Linked DNA regions of Homo sapiens. The protein of the gene in region 1 interacts with the protein of each later gene in a pairwise test. Each region holds a gene or a part of one and is shown on either strand. Other genes may lie near its edges.

Evidence for each region.
Region 2: the proteins of BTBD10 (region 1) and KCTD5 come close enough for resonance energy transfer, tested with the Homo sapiens proteins (one study listed by BioGRID).

What each region holds. Positions count from the first base shown.
Region 1 is NC_000011.10:13,461,526-13,465,437, forward strand, and holds the start of BTBD10 (BTB/POZ domain-containing protein 10), read right to left. Parts: upstream 1,698-3,912; 5' UTR 1,567-1,697; intron 1,465-1,566; exon of another isoform or gene 1,097-1,464; intron 1-1,096. UniProt on the Homo sapiens protein: Plays a major role as an activator of AKT family members by inhibiting PPP2CA-mediated dephosphorylation, thereby keeping AKTs activated. Plays a role in preventing motor neuronal death and accelerating the growth of pancreatic beta cells.
Region 2 is NC_000016.10:2,680,296-2,684,207, reverse strand, and holds the start of KCTD5 (BTB/POZ domain-containing protein KCTD5), read right to left. Parts: upstream 1,686-3,912; 5' UTR 1,660-1,685; coding exon 1,408-1,659; intron 1-1,407. UniProt on the Homo sapiens protein: Its interaction with CUL3 suggests that it may act as a substrate adapter in some E3 ligase complex. Does not affect the function of Kv channel Kv2.1/KCNB1, Kv1.2/KCNA2, Kv4.2/KCND2 and Kv3.4/KCNC4.

The DNA.
Region 1 (3,912 bases):
TACTTCCCTAAGTCACCTATTATAAAAAGCCAAAAGCAGACCACAGTGGTTTGCAACTCCATAGTTAATAATTTAAAAAATTCACATGGCTTAGAGGGAGTGAGAAAGAAGAAAATTCAGACTGGTGGAAGGGTAACATAATTACATAGGGTTAGAAGTCTATCTGAAAGCTTTTCTGGGAGTGAGAAAAAAGGTGAACGAACACAAAAACATTGTTGAAACACTAAAAGCTTTCCTGATTGAACACTGTTACTCTCTGGTGGTTCCTTACCACATTCCATGCTTCAGAAACTTCCTTCCTACTTTGTATGTATTAATATAATAGCTGTTAGGTCATACACGCTGAGAAATATTGGGAAAATTTATAAAACACATTTACATCATCAGAAATAATTCTTCTCACACTTTTTTTTTTTTTTTTTTTACCAGTCTTGGTCCACTTTCAAATCCCTTCCCAAGTATTTTCTACTGCTTTCCGCTTTATATTCAAATGACAACTGCAGTCCTGGGTTTCAGGACTGAACTTCAATCCTGGACAGGCTCTCTAATACAGAAACTCTTTTGGCCGTTATGGCTGCATTCTTTATTATATCTCTTATTCCGATTTCCACAGTCTCTTTCATTGAAAATTTATCCCTAACCCCCTCTCTAAAAGATTTTGATCAAATTTGTGTAGTTGGGGGGTTGGGAGGATAGGGGCGGGAAGGAACTCAGTTGTCCAAATACAATTAATATCCTGTGCTGTTTCATTTAGATTGCTAATTTAAATAAAAAGCATGAAAACTCTGCAAGATAATAAATCTTCGTAAAATAATCTTGTTTACTAAGTGCACAAAGCCACAAGCAAGTGAAGCTCTATCTTTCAGCATGTCTGGACTAGTGACTTTTCATCATGGACTCAGAATACTGAGAAAGGAGAAGCAGGAAATCTGTGAGGCCCAGGGACAGTCACACTGGCCCACACTAACAAATTACTAACCGATGTCTCACCTTCCCCCGCCCCATTCCCAAAGATAAGGGTGTCAGGGCACCTGCATCTGAAGAAGAAAGACATCAGAACCTTTTCCGTGCAAGTTTTAAGAAAACAAAGCTTTACCACACGTAAAATGGTTACAACATAAAACCACGCAGCACGTTAGTGGGGTCTCACTCCTCTTCACCCAGAGGGAGGCTGCCCACCACCTTATCCCCTATTGTGATGCGCCTTCCTCAGGATGTCGCTGCGTTCGTCTGAGATGACAGGAAAGGGGCGGGGCACGGGGTTCCTCTGCCCTGGAAAGGGATGAGGGTATCGCCTTCATCCCCGGAGAAAGGCCCCCGGACTCCCAACCCAAAAGCAGCAGCCGCAAAACTCAAGTCTTATCCCGGCCTCTCCTAATTGGGTGCTCGTGGCCGGAGCCCAAAACGCCACCCACGGTACCCGAGCAGGGTCCGGCCGCCCAGACCACCGCCGCAGCAGCCTGGCTCTCACGCCCAGATTCGCCCTCCGCCCCTTTCCTCTTTCGCCCCGGCCAAGCCCAGCCTCCCGCGCCGCCCCCGCCGAGTTCCCCAGCTGAGTCCACTCACTCTCGAACCTGTAGTCCCCCTTCAGTGCCCACACAAGATTGGGGCAAAGGCCGGGGCCAGTGACACCTCCACTTCCTCCTCAGCCAGATCCCTCCGGAGGTGGCTGTGGAGGAAGCCACTGAGGCGGCTGCGCGTAGCGGAGCCGCCCCGGCAGGTTGCAGGCCGGCTCCTCAGCCTCTTACCGCGAGAGCTCACAATGCGAAGAGGCGAGGCCAGCAGCGTTCTCGCGAGAACGGTGCTCTCCGCCCAGGGGTGGGCGGGGCACCGAAGGAGAAGGCAGTTGAGGGCGCGGCGGCCACGGGTGGGATCTCAGGCGCGTGGAGAGGAAGGCGCCGCGCGACCTCTCCTCACAGACATCAGCTCGGGTCAACCGCGGGCCTCGAGCCCGAGTGGCTGAGGGCTGTTACCTTCAAACCTTTGAATCCCACGTTTTCCCCTTGACTTCCTGTCACCGTTAGAGAAAAGTGGACAGCGTCTCGGTCACAGAGTTGGAGAAATAGTGCAGGGACTCTTCAGGGAGAGCGTTTTCCTCATCAAAGCAAACTGCAAAATCGCTTCTGCCGGCGTGGACCTGATGAGAGTCGGTCGTCGTGAGGGACACCCTCTGTTCCCTAACGTCCCCCGCTGCTTATTTTTAAACGCTCGGTTGGCGGGAACCCCTGTGCCAGCTGAAACTCCTTCAGTTTGGCCGCCTAGGAAACACCGAGAGTCACCTACATGGGCTGGCTGGGCAATAAAAACGGGAAAAAATGTAAAAGACACAGTCTCCGCCTTCGAAGCTTACACCCCCGGGGCAAGACCTACAGGAAAATAGATAATCCCATTATTCTCTGATAAAAGCCGAGCTGCTTGCCATGAGCTCTGGGAGCAGACGGGGAGGCCTTGTTGAGAAAGCCTTCACCTGGGAGTGACAATTGCGCTGAATCTTAAGCATAAGTAAGTTCTCCAGTTTAGGGAAGAGAGGGAAGGGCATTGCAAGGAGAGGAAGCAAAGAGGAAGAGGACCTGGTTTGAGTAATTGGGTATGAAAACAGATATTGCAGCAAGAACTTTGTTGAAAAACCTTTAACCACTGTTTAGTTCGGATGAGAACATTCCCAGGCTCCTACGTGTGATACGCAAAGTATTTTCCAAATCAGTGTTTATGCTAAGAAGATGAGCAGTTGAGCTGGACAATTATAAGATAACTTCATCTTTCTCCTGTAAGGACACTTAAATATCAGAAACCTAAGAGAAACGGGTTATTGTCGTAATTCACTAAGTTATTATAGCCAACATTTTGCTAAATTGGAAATTGCCAATAATTTCAAGTTGTCTACATAAGAGCAATCTAATAGGAATTTTGTGATACAGTTTCTCAGAGAAACTCTGAGAAAATTCTCAGGCAAAAAACAAAAACGTCATCAGTCCTGATTTATTATCAAAATTTTCTCCTATAAGCTCTGCTCAGAAGAAGTCATTCTGTAGTCCAAGTTAGGGCTAATGAGGAGCCATACTCTTACATCAAAATAGAAGCTGTCCTTTTCTAAAGAAAGACTCTGGTATTTTGCTGTAGTTTCCACTCACCTTCCTTTGGACACATTATTTTCATATTACATATAAAAATATGTATACTATATGAAAAATACTATGTATACTATAGTTTTATTTGGCTTACCATACTCTCCCTACGAATAAGCCCAACACTTAGGAGGAAAACAAAAAAGTTATTCTAACCCTGCTGATACGGTTTGGATCTATGTCCCCACCTGACCTCTCATGTGGAATTGTAATCCCCAGTGTTGGAGGTCGTTGGATCATGGGGGCAGATTTCCCTGTTTTTGCCATTCTGGTGATAGTGAGTTCTGGTGAAATCTGTTCTTTAAAAGTGTGTGGCGCCCCCCCACCCCCGCCCCACTCCTCCCACCATATAAGACGTGCCTGCTGTACCTTGGCTTTCTGCCATGATTGTAAGCTTCCTGAGGCCTCCCCAGAAGCCCAGCAGAAGCCGTCGGACTTCCTGTACAGCCTGCGGAGCCGTGAGCCAGTTAAACCTCTTTGTTTTATAGCAGTGCAAGAATGGACTAATGCACCTGCCATAGGCCAATTGGGTGTTCTGTTAAGCATAATTTCACATCAAGTTCTTGGAATTTTCCAGGAAGCATTAGAAGAATCATATGAATGAAAGACTTCAGGCAAAATATGGAAACTTTGTTCCATGCTGGAATCTGTTCAAACCATCATATCCTACTTGGATGGGTCCTGGAGCTCATTTCATTCTGCTGTTCTTCAAAAACAAAAGAGAATGGGAGTTGGGAGAAAATAGAAAATCGAATAAAGTTTCTACTGTTCTTTGCTTTAAAAGAAA
Region 2 (3,912 bases), on another chromosome or scaffold:
TTCATATACAAAACAGGAATGCTTGAGTAGAAAGGCAAGGGAGTGACCACTAAGCCCTGTTATTTAAAAAGAAAAACCAAACAGTAAAACATACACCCACACTTATAAAAGGAAAATCACAGCTAACAAACGCCTATTTCTATCCTGGGGATGACTGTCATTTCCTGGGAGGTCAATTCTCTGAGTAGAGGGCTTGGTCAAATGAGCAATGGAAACAGTTGGAAGTTGTGGGGAGGCACAGGAGGGTTGGCATCTCAAACCCTCATTTCCACCCACAAGGCTGCCTTAGCAGTAACTCCAGATTCTCACTTCCTGATCACGGTCATGCCATGCTGAGAATGGTCTCAGTCAGGCTTCTCAAACTTGAAGAGGGATCCGAACCTTTCTGGGAAGCCTCCTGCATGGCAAATGTTGGCTGCCAAGGCACAAAGCCAAGCGCAGTCATGTAAGCTCAACTGAAAGACCCCGCAAAGTTAGTATAAGGCTTGTGAACTGCCTTGAATAAATATAGGTAACAACTTCTTCAAACAGGCTTTTTTGTGAGTTTCAATCCTGCACAACTCCCAAGACACGGTTCCTCGGCTCCACAACTCTTGATAAATAAAGGTAGCAAAAGGTTTCTATTACCATCTACCCAACAGCATGAGCATTTCGCTTGATGAAAGACAAGCTGCAAACTAACCTGGAAATTCCTGTCCTTTTGCGAAGACAGTGGGAAAACTAAGCCAATTAGAAAGCAGATTGAAAGATTCCTTACCTGACCCTTCCTGGACATCCCTAAAGCAACCCTTAATATGAGCAAAATCCCCTTCGAAAAATCATACTATATACTACGGACGCATCTTCTAAGAGGTGCTGAGTGGGTGCTGCGTGCTGTGGATGGAAAGGATGGAGCGCCAACTCTCTAAATGCAAGTCACCAGGGAAAAAAAGGGCCGCCCATATCAACCCCCACGTCAGCGTTAATTCAAACGTCCAGAATGTGAAACAACGCCAAGGGTTCTGTTTCCAGAGCCAGCAAGTACCCTGGGACAGAGAAGAGAAGGCGTTCACACACCCTGGGCAAAAGAACCTAGTGAGAAAAAGAAAGTAGAATCACAGCAAAGTCCGGGGTCTAGGAAGCCTCCTCCACCAAAGAGCAAAGAGGGCGAGGAAGAGACACCCCCAAGGTGAATCGACTCAGGATCCTCAAAGGCAGTGGACGCCAGGGCGCCATCCTCACCCTCCCCTCCCAGGGTAGGGGATCGGGGCAAGCTGGGGAGGAGCTGGCGACAAGGGAGCGCGGGGCTCGAAGCCCGAGGAGAGTCGCCCGCTCCCGCTGAAGTCTCCTCCGCACGAAGCAGGGCGTGTGCAGGAGCCGCAGGCCGGGAAGGCCAGGACCCTCCGGGCTGGCCCGTGAGGCCCTCACCTTGTCTGAGTCCAGGTCGGGATCGGCCTGGCATAAGCGGTACAGGAAGGATTTCGGGTCCCGGCACAGGGTCTGCCGAGTGGTGAGGAAGTAGGTGCCGCCGACGTTGAGTCGGACCCACTTGGACACGCTGCCAGGGCGCTGGGCCAGGGCGCCGAGCCCAGCGCTGCAGCGGCGGCACAGGCCGCCCCCCAGCCCCGCCCCGATGCCGCCCCGGGCCGGCGACAGGAGCTCGCAGTGATTCTCCGCCATGATCCCAGCAAGCCCCGCAACAGCTCCCTTCCACCGGAAGCGTCCGGCTTTTAATAGCGTCCTCTGAGTTCTGTCCCGCCCACAGGTCCGCCCTGGTAGAGCGCCCGCCCCGGCGTCACGCGGTAGGCGGAAGTTCCGGTCCCGAAAAGCAGGAGGCTGGGCCCGCTTCCGGCGGGAGCGGAGCACGGGGTGATCTGGGCACTAACGCTGATGGGGAGCAGCGGACATCAGCCTCGACCTCCCACGAGCGGTGCACGAGCGCCTGACCCAGACCTCGACCCTAGCCTTCACCCCCACCCTGACTCCAGTTCATGAACTGGTCAAAGGAAGAGCCATGCCAGCAAACGTCTACACTGTACATGCTTTTTATTACAAGACTACGGAGCATAGGAGGAAAATTCATCATCTGGTAACTACACCTAAAGCACAAATATTTGGGGGGAAAAAAAGAACAGATTCATTAAATTATATGATTAAATCATTGACCCAATAGAAAATTTATATAATAAGGGCGGGGCCTGGTGGCTCACGCCTGTAATCCCAGCACTTTGGGAGGCCGAGGCGGGAGGATCAGGCGGTCAGGAGATCGAGACCACGCTGGCCAACATGGTGAGGCCCGGTCTCCACTGAAAATACAAAAATTAGCCTGGCGCGGTGGTGGGCGCCGGTAATCCAAGCTACTCGGGAGGCTGCGGCAGGAGAATGGCGTGAACCCGGGAGGCAGAGGTTGCAGTGAGCTGAGATCTCGCCACTGCACTCCAGCCTGGTGATAGGGCGAGAGTCTGTCTCAAAAAAAAAAAAAGAAAGTTTTTGTAATAAAGCCAGAAAAAAGTTGTAAAATATATAGTAATTATTCACATTCAAGGCTGTATATCAATACATATAACAACGTGGCCCCGAACATGAATTCAATACAAATAATTCATATATTAGAATTTAGGCCGGGCGCGGTGGCTCATGTCTGTAATCCCAACACTTTGGGAGGCCAAGGTGGGTGGATCACGAGGTCAGGAGTTCAACATCAGCCTGGCCAAGATGGTGAATCTCCGTCTCTACCAAAAATACAAAAAATTAGCCAGATGTGGTTGTGGGCGCTCGTAATCCCAGCTACTCGGAGGCTGAGGCAGAGAATTGCTTAAACCCAGGAGGCGGAGGTTGCAGTTAGCCGAGATCAGGCCACTGCACTCTAGCCTGGGCGACAGAGTGAGACTCCGTCTCAAGAAAAAAAAAGAATTTAAATAACAGGCTGAACTAGAGGCCAACAATAGCCAGCAAATAACCTTCTATAAGATTAAAAACACAAAAGTGTATATCCTAATACCATTGTATTATTTGTTTTCATGAGTTCTTTTAATTTTTGCTTTGTCTGTACATCACAGTTACAGCTACAGACCAGGTAGAGAATATTACGCATGTTCTGACTGCCACCCACCTGAAAGACGTACTAGTCATTTATCCTATTTCATGTTGTGAAGGAACAGCTACAGCAGCTCTAAATACTGTAACAATTTAATTTTGCCAACATCCAACTTAACAGTCGTAATAGAGGCTTTTACCAGCACAATGACCCCTATTCGTAGTCATTCTGCCAGACGGTTAGGCTATGTGGGTTACACAGCTTAAAAAAGGTCTGCCTTTTGTAAAAAGTTCTCTGTACATAGTTTGGTGTTTCTTCATATGGAAGAAATGAGTTATGGGGAAAATTCAGGTACACACGTAGGCTCGTTCAGTTGCTCACCACAGCCATCTCAACAGATGAAAGTGCTCTTTGTTGGAAACAGCTTCCTCCTCACACCAGTTCTCCACAGGCAGCCTCATCTACAACCCTGCAATTTTGGGCCAGAAGTGGTGGCCCCTCAGAGGCTCTGAAGTGCCTCCAGCCCCGATTCAGGCACTTGCCACGTGTGCTGCGTAAGAAGGGACCCCACCCAGTGAGTCAACATAGGCTCATGTCAAGTTTGAAAATAACTGGGGAAAAGTGTATGACAACATCTTCCAGAACATAGTACCTTCACCGTATTCTCACAGCAGCTGCGATCTCTGAAGTCTCAGCAGTGAGCACCCCGGGTCTGTCAACCAGCCAGGCAAGGGGGGGCCCTCAGGCTTCAGAGGGCAAGAAACCAAATTCCGTGCAATTTGGCCATAATCTCTGGTAGAGTGAAGCAGCACTGAACGCAGTGCCTAGAAAAACCTCCTGCACGTTCCCCTGCACAATCAATGGACCCCAACTACAGTGGAGAAATGAAGAATCCA